Linked DNA regions of Homo sapiens. The protein of the gene in region 1 interacts with the protein of each later gene in a pairwise test. Each region holds a gene or a part of one and is shown in the gene's direction. Other genes may lie near its edges.

What was found.
Region 2: the proteins of MAPKBP1 (region 1) and FOXN1 interact in binary tests that used the Homo sapiens proteins (3 or more experiments, as listed by UniProt).

What each region holds. Positions count from the first base shown.
Region 1 is NC_000015.10:41,819,473-41,826,496, forward strand, and holds part of MAPKBP1 (mitogen-activated protein kinase-binding protein 1), read left to right. Parts: intron 1-122; coding exon 123-178; intron 179-1,359; coding exon 1,360-1,596; intron 1,597-2,111; coding exon 2,112-2,278; intron 2,279-2,492; coding exon 2,493-2,638; intron 2,639-2,752; coding exon 2,753-2,950; intron 2,951-3,120; coding exon 3,121-3,205; intron 3,206-3,466; coding exon 3,467-3,750; intron 3,751-3,974; coding exon 3,975-4,589; intron 4,590-5,011; coding exon 5,012-5,097; intron 5,098-5,736; coding exon 5,737-5,964; 3' UTR 5,965-7,024. UniProt on the Homo sapiens protein: Negative regulator of NOD2 function. It down-regulates NOD2-induced processes such as activation of NF-kappa-B signaling, IL8 secretion and antibacterial response. Involved in JNK signaling pathway.
Region 2 is NC_000017.11:28,509,333-28,516,356, forward strand, and holds part of FOXN1 (forkhead box protein N1), read left to right. Parts: intron 1-7,024. UniProt on the Homo sapiens protein: Transcriptional regulator which regulates the development, differentiation, and function of thymic epithelial cells (TECs) both in the prenatal and postnatal thymus.

The sequences.
Region 1 (7,024 bases):
GCTGAGGAAACTGAGGCATCACTGTGGCCACACAGGGTATGGGCTGATGGGGCCAGGGCTCCAGGGTTGGGTGGCGGGGGGGGGGCAGGAGACACTTCCTCTGACTGCCTGTTTCTGTCTAGCCTCGGTCCCCAGCCCAGCTTTGCCCCGAAGCCTGTCCCACTGGGAGATGAGTCGGGTGAGTCGCCATTGTTAAAATGTTCTTCCAAGGTTAGAGGAGGCAAAGGGAGCTGTGAGAACAGGGCTCTCTGGGCCTGGTAGGGTACTGGGGCATGGGGTCTGCCCACATGCTGCACTCGTGTGTCCAAGGAAGGCCTTGTCGGGGAAGTTGAAGCAGCTGGGCTGGTCCTGGGTGCGGGGGTGAAGAAAGCCCAGGTATTTCCTTCCTGTGGACCAGTTGGGGTGGATGGAGCACAGGGTTAGTCAGCACTGGGGAGGTGGGGCACTTGTTCAGCTGCCTGGTGCCTGGAAGTAAATATCATCAGAGAAGAGCTCAAGGTGGAGAGGACAAAGGACCCCTAAGCCAGATAGTTAGAACTAAAATGCAGGAAATCAAGGATCCAAAGAGCGGAGATCTGGAGAAACAGTTCTAAAGATCCCGGTTAGGAGGTAAGCGGAGAACTTCCAGAATAGTTAGAGGGAAAAGGCCATGAGGGGACCCATAACTCAGCGACTGCCCTGGGGTGGCCAAAGGGGGATCAAGGTGTTCAGAGCAAGTTCCCAAGCACCAGTACCTTCCGTTGTCAGCAACAGTTTCACAGAGTGATGATGCTGTGGTGTCTCTGGAGCACCCTGACCGGGCCAGGGGTCTCAGGCCTGGGCTATAGGTTTGTCCTTGGTGCTGTGAGGGGACTTTGGGGCCCCCAGCTATTGGAGTGATTGGGGTAGAGAGGCAAAAGGAGTGGTTGGGGTAGACAGGCAGAAGTGGCCTTTGCCCTGGGCTGGATTTCTTGGGGGACTCTTGGTAGTAAGTGGTTGCTGCTGGGGCTGTCCTCAGAGTAGGAGACTTTTAGAGACCCCCAGCTCTGAGGCATCCATGATACCAGGTGAAGGCTGAGACTAGGGGTTCCTGTGCCAGAGGATGCGGAATGCAGCTAAGAGCATGAACTCTGGAGCCAGACTAATCTGCAGGCCACTTACTGTCTGTGGGACGCAGACTGCTCACTTAAGCCCCCTGTGCTTCAGTCTCCTCATCTGTAAAACAAGGATTATACTAGTGCCCATTTCAAAAGGTTGCTGTGAGGATGAAGTAAGCTAGTATGTGTAGTGTGCCAGGCACATAGTAAGGGATATGTGGATATTTGTTGATCTTACTGTGTGGTTGTTGTTACTCCTCCCCCACCCCCTACCTCCCACCAGGCACAGGAGTCCGTGGGGTTCCTGGACCCAGCTCCTGCAGCCAACCCAGGACCCAGAAGAAGAGGGCGCTGGGTTCAGCCAGGTGTGGAACTGAGCGTTAGATCCATGCTGGATCTGCGGCAGCTGGAAACACTGGCCCCAAGCCTGCAGGACCCTAGCCAGGACTCGCTGGCCATCATCCCATCTGGTCCCAGGAAGCATGGGCAGGAGGCCCTTGAGACTTCACTCACTAGCCAGGTGAGCCTGCTTTCTCCCAGCTCTCTAGAGAGTTCCAAGGGGCCTTAGGCAGCCTTTGCCACCAGCTGGGACCTGAGCACTGGTCCAGCTATGCTTGCTCTGCCCCTGTGGCACATGGGTAACCTGAACTGCAAAGCCAGGATGGGGGTGGCTGGGCTGTATGGTTTGGTCATCAGGATAGGCAGGGGAGGGGTTGGGGTAGAGAGGCAAAAGTGGCCTTTGCCCTGGGCTGGGTTTCTTGGAGGACTCTTGGTATTAAGTGGTAGCTGGAGGTTGGCAGCCCAGAGTGCTAATATAGTTCATCCAGAAGCTCACATCAGCAACTGGAGCCCAGCCTGGCTTCTCGATGTCTGTCCTTCAGCTTCCCCTTGAATGAGTGCACACCGCATCCTTACTCACCTCCACCTCTTCTCCAAGGGGAGGGTTGGCCCCCAGGATACTCAGGGCTTACCCCCCAGCTACCACTGCCTCATCTGTCACCTCTGCTCTGTTAACATCCCTTTGTGTGTTCCCAGAATGAAAAGCCCCCTCGGCCTCAGGCTTCCCAACCTTGTTCCTATCCCCATATTATCCGATTATTGTCACAAGAGGAAGGGGTCTTTGCCCAAGATCTGGAACCTGCACCCATTGAAGATGGTATTGTCTACCCGGAGCCGAGTGACAACCCCACCATGGATACCAGGCAAGGATCCTGCCCTAGCCAGACCCCGTGCCCCCGTCTTCCCCTCCCTATGAGTGTTCTTTAGTCGAGGGAGGGTTGGCCCCCAGGATACTCAGGGCTTTCCTTCCAGCTCACCACTGCCTCATCCCTCACCCTGATCACAGGCAGGAGTCCAGCGGGGCTGCTGCCTACCCCTGCTCACTGCCTTTTCTTCTCCCTGCTGGAATCCTGACAGTGAGTTCCAAGTGCAGGCTCCAGCCCGGGGAACTCTGGGAAGAGTGTACCCAGGCAGCAGGAGCTCAGAAAAGCACAGCCCTGACAGTGCCTGCTCTGTGGATTACAGCAGCAGCTGCCTTTCCAGCCCGGAGCACCCCACTGAAGGTGAGGCTGTAGCCTGGAGGGAGGGGCCATGGGGGGTGGGGCCTGGAGGTGGGTGGGGAGGCTCTGGCAACAGATGGGTGCAGTGCGATGCCTCTCTCCCCTCCCCACACCCAGACTCTGAGAGCACGGAGCCCCTCAGTGTGGATGGCATCTCCTCAGACCTTGAAGAGCCAGCTGAGGGTGATGAAGAAGAGGAAGAAGAGGAGGGAGGCATGGGCCCCTATGGGCTACAGGAGGGCAGCCCCCAGACTCCAGACCAGGAGCAGTTTCTAAAACAGCACTTTGAGACTCTGGCCAGTGGAGCTGCTCCAGGTGTGGTCAGAGGGCCAGCATTTAGTGCCTGCAATTTGCCCTTCTCCCCTCCTTGCCTACCTGAGAGGAGGGTCCCAGGGTATAGGCTGTGGCTGGGGGTCTCAAGGAGGCAAAATCTGGGGCAAGGGCTTGGTTTTTGCCCCAATTCATGATTTCTCTGACCTTGGTAGGGGCCCCAGTGCAGGTCCCAGAGAGGTCAGAGTCTCGGAGTATCTCTTCACGATTCCTGTTGCAAGTACAGACCCGCCCACTCAGGTACAGAGGCCCCCTACCCCCCAGCAGCAGCTCTGGCTCTCCTCGCCTCCCAGGGCTGCTGCCCTCTCCTCTCCAGTGTTCTGTCTCTCCATGCGCGGGGTGTTTTGCACTCCCAGTTTTGGGCTAACTGGCCTTTCCCCAGCCCTATCTGGCTTTGTGCTTGTTCTCTCCTAGTGCCCTGGTGCTATGAGTTTCTCGCCATTTTGGCAGGGAGGAGCATTGAGCCTTCTCTGGGCCTTCTCCCACATGTTCTCCCTGTAGGGAACCATCCCCATCCTCCTCAAGCCTGGCACTGATGTCGAGACCAGCCCAGGTGCCACAGGCATCTGGTGAGCAGCCGAGAGGCAATGGTGCCAATCCCCCTGGAGCACCCCCGGAGGTGGAACCGTCCTCTGGCAACCCCAGCCCCCAGCAGGCAGCCTCTGTGCTGTTGCCACGATGCCGTCTCAACCCTGACAGCAGCTGGGCTCCCAAGAGAGTGGCCACAGCCAGCCCCTTTTCTGGACTCCAGAAGGCCCAGTCTGTGCACAGTCTGGTGCCACAGGGTGAGAAGCCTGATGGGTTCAGTGCCAGGGTGCAGGGTGTATGGAACACATGTACATGCTGGAGGAGGGAGGGCCTGGTGTGGCCCTGATGTGCCACTGTGCTGGCCACTAGGTGTCCCTTAATGGGCATGTGGAGGGGAACAGCAGCTCTTCGGGATTGGGTGTTGGCACCTGGGATGCCTTCCTCAACACCTGACCTGTGTATACCTCTGTCTCCTTTGCAGAAAGACATGAGGCCAGTCTGCAGGCCCCTTCACCAGGCGCACTGCTGTCTCGGGAGATCGAAGCTCAGGATGGTCTGGGCTCCCTGCCCCCAGCTGATGGCCGTCCGTCTCGGCCTCACTCCTATCAGAACCCCACCACCAGTTCCATGGCCAAGATATCCCGCAGTATCTCTGTTGGGGAGAACCTGGGCCTGGTGGCTGAACCTCAAGCTCATGCCCCCATCCGAGTCTCACCACTCAGCAAGCTGGCCCTGCCCAGCCGGGCTCACCTGGTCCTGGACATCCCCAAACCACTGCCTGACCGTCCTACCCTGGCTGCATTCTCTCCTGTCACCAAAGGCCGGGCCCCTGGCGAGGCAGAAAAGCCTGGCTTCCCGGTGGGCCTAGGAAAAGCTCACAGTACAACTGAGAGATGGGCCTGTTTGGGGGAGGGCACCACTCCCAAGCCTAGGACAGAGTGCCAGGCTCATCCTGGGCCCAGCAGCCCCTGTGCCCAGCAACTGCCAGTCAGCAGCCTCTTCCAAGGCCCTGAAAACTTGCAGCCCCCACCCCCTGAGAAGACTCCCAACCCCATGGAATGCACCAAGCCAGGGGCAGCCCTGAGCCAGGACTCAGGTGTGCACAGCTCCCCAGCTCTCATCTCCTGCCCCATCCTTACTCTCCCCTCTCTGTTGGCCGCTGTCTGGCTCCATCCCATTTCTGTGGGTACAGCTTCTGGTGTTTCTTGTCCTGTCTGCTCCTGTCGCAGGTCCGTAAGTCACACCCCTGATGGTGAGACCCTCCTGCTAACCTTCATGATTTCCTTGTGACTCACTTGCCCATTCAGTGGCTTCTGAACTTGGGGCTGGCCGTCTCCTCTGGACCTTGTTTGTGTGGTGTTGGGGAGGCCGTTGGAAGAGAAGCCAAGAGGAAGGGACTGAGGGCAAGTGGGGGGTGCAATGCTGAGGGCTAGGTCTCTCCTGTTCTGAGTGTCTTGGGTGCGGAGGCCTGAAAGGGCTACATGCTGGGCCTCACTGAGCTGTATCCGTCTCTTTCAGAGCCAGCGGTGAGCCTGGAGCAGTGTGAGCAGCTGGTGGCAGAGCTCCGCGGCAGCGTGCGCCAGGCAGTGCGGCTCTACCACTCGGTGGGTGTTAGGTGCCCCCCGGCAGGAAGGCGGGCACGTCAGTAGTGCTGGGTGTTTCGGATAACCATGTCCAGAACAGTATGCTAAGCCTCTTGTGCTGACAGGATGGCACACTCAAGAACATCTTGGGCAGCATAGGTGAGGGGGTTAGAGGCCAGGCTAGCCTCTTGTACCGGGCACCTGCGGTCATTTCTGGTTAAGAGCTGGAGACTTCCCTCAGGAGGTGAGGCCTGAAGAGACCACACCTCCTAGTTGGCTCAGGACAATCCCAGTTTATGTCGTTGTCCCAGTGTAATTATTAATGGCATCCTTTTTCATATCCATGAATTATTTGGCCCCCTTAGACATAGGGGACAGTCCAAGAAGGCCCAAACTTTGAAAGAGAAAGCAGATTCTGCCGGAGTTGTCATAAGGAGTTGCTTATAAGATGTAGACGGTTCTGCAATCCAATGGGTTCCTCCTTGGGCGTCACCCCCAGAGTCTGCCTGCATCCCATGTTCCCTGGCCATACATGCTGATCTTGGCGGGTAGAGTTCCCAGCTAGTCCCTTCTGAGGCAGGCTGGACCCAGGTGGGGCCCCTCCCTTTTATATGTCTGTTGACAGGCTCCTCCACCTCACTTCTGGGGGTGCTATTTCAGGTGGCTGGCTGCAAGATGCCCTCAGCAGAGCAAAGTCGGATTGCCCAGCTCCTCAGAGACACCTTCTCTTCAGTGCGACAGGAGCTGGAAGCTGTGGCTGGGGCAGTGCTGTCCAGCCCAGGCAGCAGCCCTGGGGCTGTGGGAGCCGAGCAGACACAGGCCCTGCTGGAGCAATACTCAGAACTGTTGCTTCGAGCCGTGGAACGGCGTATGGAACGCAAACTCTGAGTTCTGGAAGCCTGTCCCAAGTGAATGAATGCTCCAGCGATTCCAAACTGCAGCCCCTCTGCCCCTCACCAAAACCTGCGGGGCTGCTTGGAGTGGAAAGCAGGGAGCAGTGTTCAGAGGCAAAGCAGCCTTCCCAGCCGCTCCTCGTGGGGGGCCTGTATTTATTAATTTATTTCCCTGACTGTTGCCTCACTTCCTTGGAACTCCTGCCTCCACAGCCCCTCCAGTGGCAGGGACAGGTCTTGGGTCTTTGTCATCTTGGTGCTGTGAGAGGTAGGAGGGCAGCCTGCCCCATCTAGGAATCTGGGAAGGGCTGGCCCTCTCTTAGAAGCCATTTGAAATTACTGCAGGGATTAGCTCCCTGTGGTGGAGCATACACAGGGTACTCTGGGGTCGAGGTGAGAGGTGATGTGGTATTCAGTGCCCGTCAGCCAACTGTGGGCCTTCACCTCTACCTGCACTTCCCCTCTCACACCAGCTGCACTCCCGTGGCTGCCAGAGCAGGGTGGTTTTCCCCAATACCTGGAGCTCAGAAAGGCAGAGCCATCTGGCCCTCCAGGGTGTCCCCAGCCATCAGGAGACTTGAGTTGGTATTTGGACCTGAGCCCGCACATTCCACTCCCATTCTCCCTCCAAGAGGGGCCCAGCATTGTATTTCCCTGTGACCCCTTACTCTCCTGGCCAGAACTTGAGCCAGCTGTGGGATGTTGCTGCAGGACAGTAAGCCCTCACCTGGGCAAACATGAAGCTCTGGCCTCCTTTCCTCAGCCCCTTGTTCTTCCCTGTCCTCCACCCTGGACCCCAGCCGGCTGCTGGAGCCCAGAGGCCACCTTCTCCCTGCATCCTGAATGATGCTTAGTCAGAAGCCTGTGTTGGAACATCCCTCGTTTACGGGGCGCTGGCCTACCTCCTGAGGACCTCAGCCACAGATGAGATCACACGCATGCACGTGCACACATGTACACACACACACCTACCTGCACAGCACGCTGTTGAGTGTTGGTTGCTAGAGTATCTGGCTGGCTGCTGTGTGCCTGGTTTCCTCACATCCTGCCTCAGC
Region 2 (7,024 bases), on another chromosome or scaffold:
AACTTGCCTCCATCACCACCACCCCATCCTGCTCCTTCCTCCTTACCTCATCTCCTCACTCCCACCTCCAACCACACTCCTATCCCCATCTCCACCTCCTGCTCCATTCCTCAGGATGGATCTCCTCCTATGTCACAGGTTCCCTTGGAGTCTAACACCCCTCACCAGCATCCCCGCCAGGTTCTGGGGTGTCCCCCAGGTTGTCTGAGCATTGAGGAAAAGCCCAGAGCCATGCCAATAGACAAAACGAGCAGGACAAGATCATCCCTGGAGCAGCCCTTAGCTTCCTCATCCTATCTGGGCCGTAAAGGCTGGATGCTCACCAAACAGTAAAAATGAGTTCAGATGCAACAAGACAAGTGGAGGGCTGGCGCCCAGACAGACCTCCACACTGCGGGCATGTGGCAGTGAAGCGGGGATGGAGAGACACCCTCATAGAGCCCCAAAGCGGGGCCGGGGCAGGCTTTCTCAGGGGGCTGGGAGCGTAACTGATCCTATCAGGCATGGCGGGCCAAGGAAGAGGGGGCATGGAAGCAGGAGCAGGGATTTTTAGGGTTGATTAGGAGTGCGCATCCCCGGGTCTCTACCCTGCCTGTGGCCCTTGCTTAGTCAGCTCAGATTAATGGGGCCAGGGAGAGAATTCGCTGAATCGTGATCTCTTGGGGAACTTGACTGGAGAGCCAGCTGTGAGTCATGGAGAAAAGGGAACCTGTGCTCTCACAGCTACTCTAGAAGCTTCCAGGGGTAGGCAACCCTCCAGATCCTCCCATCCCCTTCCAGAATGCAACAGAAAGCCCACTGCAAGGTCTGACCCTCGCCCTCCACCCCATGCTCACAGGAGGATGCACTGTCAGTCAGCTCCAAATCCTGCCCTCATACACCCTCCGGGGCCTTCAGGGCTCCCCCCACTGCCTCTGACAAACTACAGCACAGAGACACACATACACACAGAGACACACACACACAGAGACACACACCCAGACACATGCACAGAGATACATACATGCACACACGCATACATATATACATACAGAGAGACACACACAGAGACACACACAGACACACGCGCACGCACACACACAGAATGAGAATGGGGTGCATCCCTGGAACCAGATTGCCTGGAGACAGTTGGAGGTCCCACTTACACTTGTAAATTCCATAGCCATGTCCCGGACTGCACCAGCCCATCAGTCTCGGAAGGCATAGAATGTACATGAGGAAGGACACACACACACACGCACACACACGCACACACACACACACACACACACACACACACACATCGCTGTGATCAGAAAACCCAATTATCAGACTCTGCACTTAGCACCCCTCCTCCACGCAGGCCCAGAGTGACCACAGCAGTCTTCACTGTCAGTGGGGGCAGTGTCCCCAGCTTCCTCTGGAGAGGGTTCCTGGAGCCCACGTTGGGCACCAAGAGCATGTGGCTTCATAGAGGTGGCTCTGCTTCTCTGTGCCTTCCCGCAAGCGTGGTCAATCTGCCTAAAGTGGGAAGGGTTTTGGAGAAAAAATTATTTGGGGTGGCAATGCCAAATCCAGTATGATCTGAGGGTGGTCAAGGGAGAAAGATGGCAGCTGGAGCCAAGGAGCTGGATGGGCTCAGGAAAATGCCCCCAGAGCCTGCCCCTTCTCCAGGGACATGATTAGGTGCTGAGAGCTGCTTCCCATAGCCCCAGCACCTGGAGGAAGGAGCAGCGCACAGATGCCTGCATAGCAGGGAACAATCTCTCCCACTGGTGGGACCTCGGTTTCCCCATCTGTCAGATAAAGAGGGGCTTGGGTGGGAGGGCCTCCCAGTGCACTTCTCACTTCAAGGCTTAGTAAGTTCAAGGAGATAACCACCTGCCCATCCCCTGTGCAAGATGGCATTGGGAGAGGAGGTGCACCAGTATGTATTTGCCTTGTACTAAATCTGTATTATTAGTAGTGGTGGCAGAATTAATATCCTTAATAATAGATTGGTATTAATGAGCAGTTCTGATAATGATATGTACAGAATGTGAGAGGCCCCTGGCCCAACGGACAGTGGGATCCTGGGCCATTTCTTTGCCCCCACTCAGGTGGACAGGCAAAGAGCGAGCGCACCAGCAGGACGAGGGCCCTCTTGACCATCCCCCTGGGGCACACCCCTAGGAAGGGCAGATGTTTGAAGGTAAAAAGATCTCACTCAGCCCCATCCCACTCCTGAAATCCTACAGGCCTGGGACCCCAGGGGAGGAGGCAGGGGCACCAGACAAGCTGGTGCTGGTTTAACTTCTGAGGATTTTGACATTCTGGTTCTCACTCGGTCCCCAGGACAGCCAGATGAGGTATGTAGGGCAAAGATGAGGACTCCATTTTATAAAGGAGGGAACAAGGTTTATTCTCATGACTAGCCCACACCGAGAGCAGAGCTGGGAAAGGACCCTCCTGCAGTCCTTGGTCGGGAGGACTCACTGTGAGGGAAAAGGGGGATTCTGTAGGGAAGCCAGGATCTGGGCTCAGTGAAGGCGTCCAGAGATTATAACGCCAGGTTACGGGGGAGGTGAGACCAAGCTCCAACATCCCTGTTGGTCTCACAGATCAAATCCTCTGCTGCCAATCACTGCCACAGCCCAACAACTCCAAAGCCAATTACCTACACAGCCCACAGGAGGCTGGGGGTGGGACCATCGGGCTCAGCCCTGGGTGACTTCATTACAGGGGTAGGACTTCCGGGCCACAGGGACCCAGAGCTAATGAGTGCTTAGAGGTCAGCCACTTCATCCCATACCCCAGCCCATTTCTCCATCCCCTTCAGCCAGTGTAGCTGGAGGAAGCTTGTTGAGGAGGGATGAAGGCAAGGCTTCACAATCTGTGCAAAAGCCTCCTGGTCCTTCACTCATGCCCCACCTCATCAGCCATTCTTTGGCCCTTATCACAGCTGGGCAGACTGAGGATTTCAGGGAACTTTCTTCTCTAGAAACCAATGTCTAAGGCCTCAGATCACTGCTTTCTGAACACTGCCCCCTGGAAGGATCAAGCAGGCAACAAGTTCCTCCTTCTCAAAAGTCCAGCTTTCCAGTCAAGCCCTGAGTGGTTCTAGGCCACCTTGTCCACCTCCAAGTCCTAGGTCAGGCCAGTTCTCACCATCAGACTCAGCCATGGCTTCAAAAAATCCCTGGGAATAGGTGAGCACCGTGGCATGCACTTTTAGTCTCATATACTCCAGAGGCTGAGGCGAGAGCCTAGGAGTTTGAGACCAGCCTGGGCAACAAAGCAAGACCCCATCTCTAGAACCTGGGGAAGGTGGAGGTGGGAGAACCTTCTCCTTAAACTGCCTGTCCAAGGGGGTTTTATGTTTTTGGAACTGGGAATTCCCCTCCCCCACTAACCTTGGCGGGGCAAGCTTGCTGACCTTGCTTCTGGGAGCAAGATGTTGGGGTAGGCTCCCAGCCTCAGAGCCTGGACTCCAGAGTAGCCAGGGAGGCAGGAGGGTGGAGGAGGCAGACCATGAATGACACCCACAAGTAAGAGCAAAAGATCCCTGGAGGCCGAGGATGCTTAGGTGGGAGGTCTCTGTCAAGGAGCATCTAAGGAGTAGGAAGAACCCAGTAGGGCTGATCTCTCAGACTAGCAGAGGAGAGAAGGGGTCCTAGTAGGTATGTCTCAGAAAGGAATGGATGGAAGCTTTGAGGGGTAGCATTTCTTGTTTCCTTGAAACCAAACACCCCTTTCTTTCCATCTACAAAATAAACATCCCCAGCTTGGCCAACATGGCAAAACCCCATCTCTGCTAAAAATACAAAAGTTAACCAGACTTGGTGCTGCCCGCCTGTAATCCCAGCTTCTTGGGAGGCTGAGGCAGGAGAATCGCTTGAACCCAGGAGGTGGAGGTTGCAGTGAGCCAAGATTGCACCACTGCACTCCACCCTGGGTGACAGAGTGAGACTTTGTCTCAAACAAACAAACAAAAAAAACCAGAATAAACATTCACGGGTAGGTCAAGGACATCCATCCATCTATCCCACTAAATATTCATCCTTTACACTACAGATACTCACAGAAATAAAAATACTTAAAATAAAAAAATAAAACATTCATCTATCTGTCTGTTGATTTGTCCATCTGTCCAGCTTTCCATCCATCAATCTCTCCATCCGATGATCTGTCCATTCATCCAACTGTTCATCTTTACATACATAAATACATCTATCTATCCACCCATCCATCCAGAGAGGTCAGGCTCTAGTTGGCCTCCCCAGGGCTGCTAGGAAGGGCCTGTGGTCCTGTGGCATTTATGGGGCATGTGACCTGCCTGCCTGGCCTGGGGAGACAGCCCCGCCTCAGCCCTCGGGCAGGGGGCCGGTCCAGGCATGTGGGAGTATTTATACCTCGATGGAGGCTCCTGGGGAGCTGCAGGCTGAATGACTCCCCGAAGCGGTGATGGTGGCCATGACCCAGAGCCCACTGTGAGTGCTTGGATTTGGCTCCTTTGGGGCCATGGCTGGGTGGCAGAGGTTAGAGAGGGGCTGGAGAGACGGGAAGGTGCCCAGAGGCAGCCAGGGATGGCGAAAAGGAAGGGGTGCTGGGCAAAGGAGAGTGGGAGACTGGTTGCTGTTGGAGTCAGGCATCTGAAGCAAAGCTGGGACCCTCCCTGCAGAAGGGATGAGTCTATTGCCCTTAAAGAGGCTCTGGTGGGTGGCTTGGTGAATGGCAGGAAGGACAGGACAAGAGGACTAAGATTACAATAAATAGGGATTAGAGATCTGGAAGAACCTCCAGGTCGGCCCAAGGCTCAAGTGCTTTTCCAGGATGGGCGTACTAGGCAATGCTCTGGGACCAGCCTGCTTCCAGAGGCACATGGGAATGCTGAAGAGTCTTTAGGAGAAGCCTGATTTGGGGACTGGAATGACTCAGCTGCAGGTGTCGGTGGCTCACATGGAGGAAAGCGTCACCTGGGGGACATGGTGGCTTTTCATCCTTTGTTCTCCCCACTCCCCTCCCTGCCCATTCTGTCCCTACCTGCTCTGTACTTGAGTCAGATCTCAAGGCAGGGGCACGCAACCCATTTTCCGAAACTGATGCTGGGTTAAGAGCCAGGGAGGCCAGAATTTTGCCCTCAGAACTTCCAACATTGATGGGGAGAAAGGAGCTAGAAACCCCCTCTTTCTTGGCATTCCCAGACCCCGAGTTTCCTTGGGTGCCCAAGCCTCAGGCAGAGCCCCCAGGTCCTTCCCTGCCACCCCCATAATTGCCGAGCTGCTCCAGGGGACCCCTCCCAGCAGCCTGTCGGGTGGAGCCCTGGGTGGGGCTACAGGCCAGCACCCGGCCGGCCGAGCCCCACCCCTCGTAAAACATGCTGCCGCAGCCAGCAACAGAAACCATTAAGGTGGAACTGAGCCGTCCCCACCTCACTCATAAAGAGTGGGTAGGAGGCCGCCAGGTGGGAGGCAGCAGGGAGCGTGAAGAGAGCCTGGGGAGGACCCTTGGTGCCCCAGGCCTGTCTGTCCCTGTGATTCAGTTGCCCACAGGGGAGGCAGGGACAGACCCTCCCAAGGAAACCTCCAACGTCGCCCCCACCCACCTTTCAGGCTTGAGCAGGGAGGCTGAGGCGTTACCAAGGTGGGGCCGTGTAGCGTAATGGTTCAGCATGCTGGCTTTGAAGCCCGGGTTGGAATCCTGGGGAGCATAATATACTAGCTGAGTGAACTTGGGCAAGTCAGGTTAACTTCTCTGAGTCTCAGTTTCCTCATCTATAAAATGGGATGATAATACAGCTCCTCCTTCCTGGGGTGTAAAAACTCAGCCAAGTCTTCCTGATCTCCTTGAGGATGTCCTCAGGGGCGCCCCACATAAAGGCAGAGGAGGGGTGAGGTCCCTGCTGACAGCTCTGTGGGCCAGATACACCTTTACAGGGTACATATCTCCACAGGGTACACACCTCTATGAGGTACACACCTCCACAGGGTACACACTTCCACAGGGTACATACCTCCAAAGAGTACAGAGTACATACCTCCACAGGGTACACACCTCCACAGAGTACACCCCTTCATAGGTGTACACATCTCCACAGGGTACACCCTCCACAGGTGTGCACATTTCCAAAGGTGTATACACTTCCACAGGTGAACATACCTCCACAGGTGAACACACTTCCACAGGGTACATACTTCCATAGGTGAACATACTTCCACAAGTGTACACCCCTTCACAGAGGTACACCCCTCCATGTGGTACATGCTTCTACAGGGTACACACTTCCACAGATGAACATACCTCCACAGGCTACACATCTCCACAGGTGTACACCCCTCCAAAAGTATAGACTTCCACAGGTGTACACACCTCCACAGGGTATACAGTTCCATTGGTGAATATACCTCCACAGGTGTACACTCCTCAACAGGTATACACCCCTCCACAAGTATACACACTTTCACAGGAGTACACCCCTCCACAGTGTACATACCTCCAAAGGTGAACACCATTCCCCAGGTGTATACACCTCCACAGATATACATACCTTCACAGGCGTACACACCTCCACAGGGTACACACTTCCACAGGTGAACATATCTCTACAGTGTCCATACCTTCACAGGGTACACATTTCCACAGGTATACCCTCCTCAACAGGTGTACACCCCTCCACAAGTATACACATTTCCACAGGGGTACACACCTCCAGAGGATCCATACTTCCACAGGGTATACAACTCCACAGGATCCATAACTCCACAGGATACACACCTCCACAGGATCCATACCTCCACAGGGTACACATCTCCACAGGGTACACACCTCCACAGGATCCTTACATCCACAGGGTACACATCTCCACAGGATCCATACCTCCACAGGGTACACACCTCCACAGGGTACACACCTCCACAGGATCCATAGCTCCAAAGGGTACACATCTCCAGAGGATACACATCTCCACAGAATCCATACCTCCACAGGGTACACACCTCTACAGGGTACACACTGCCACAGGATCCACACCTCCACAAGGTACACACCTCCACAGGTTACACACCTC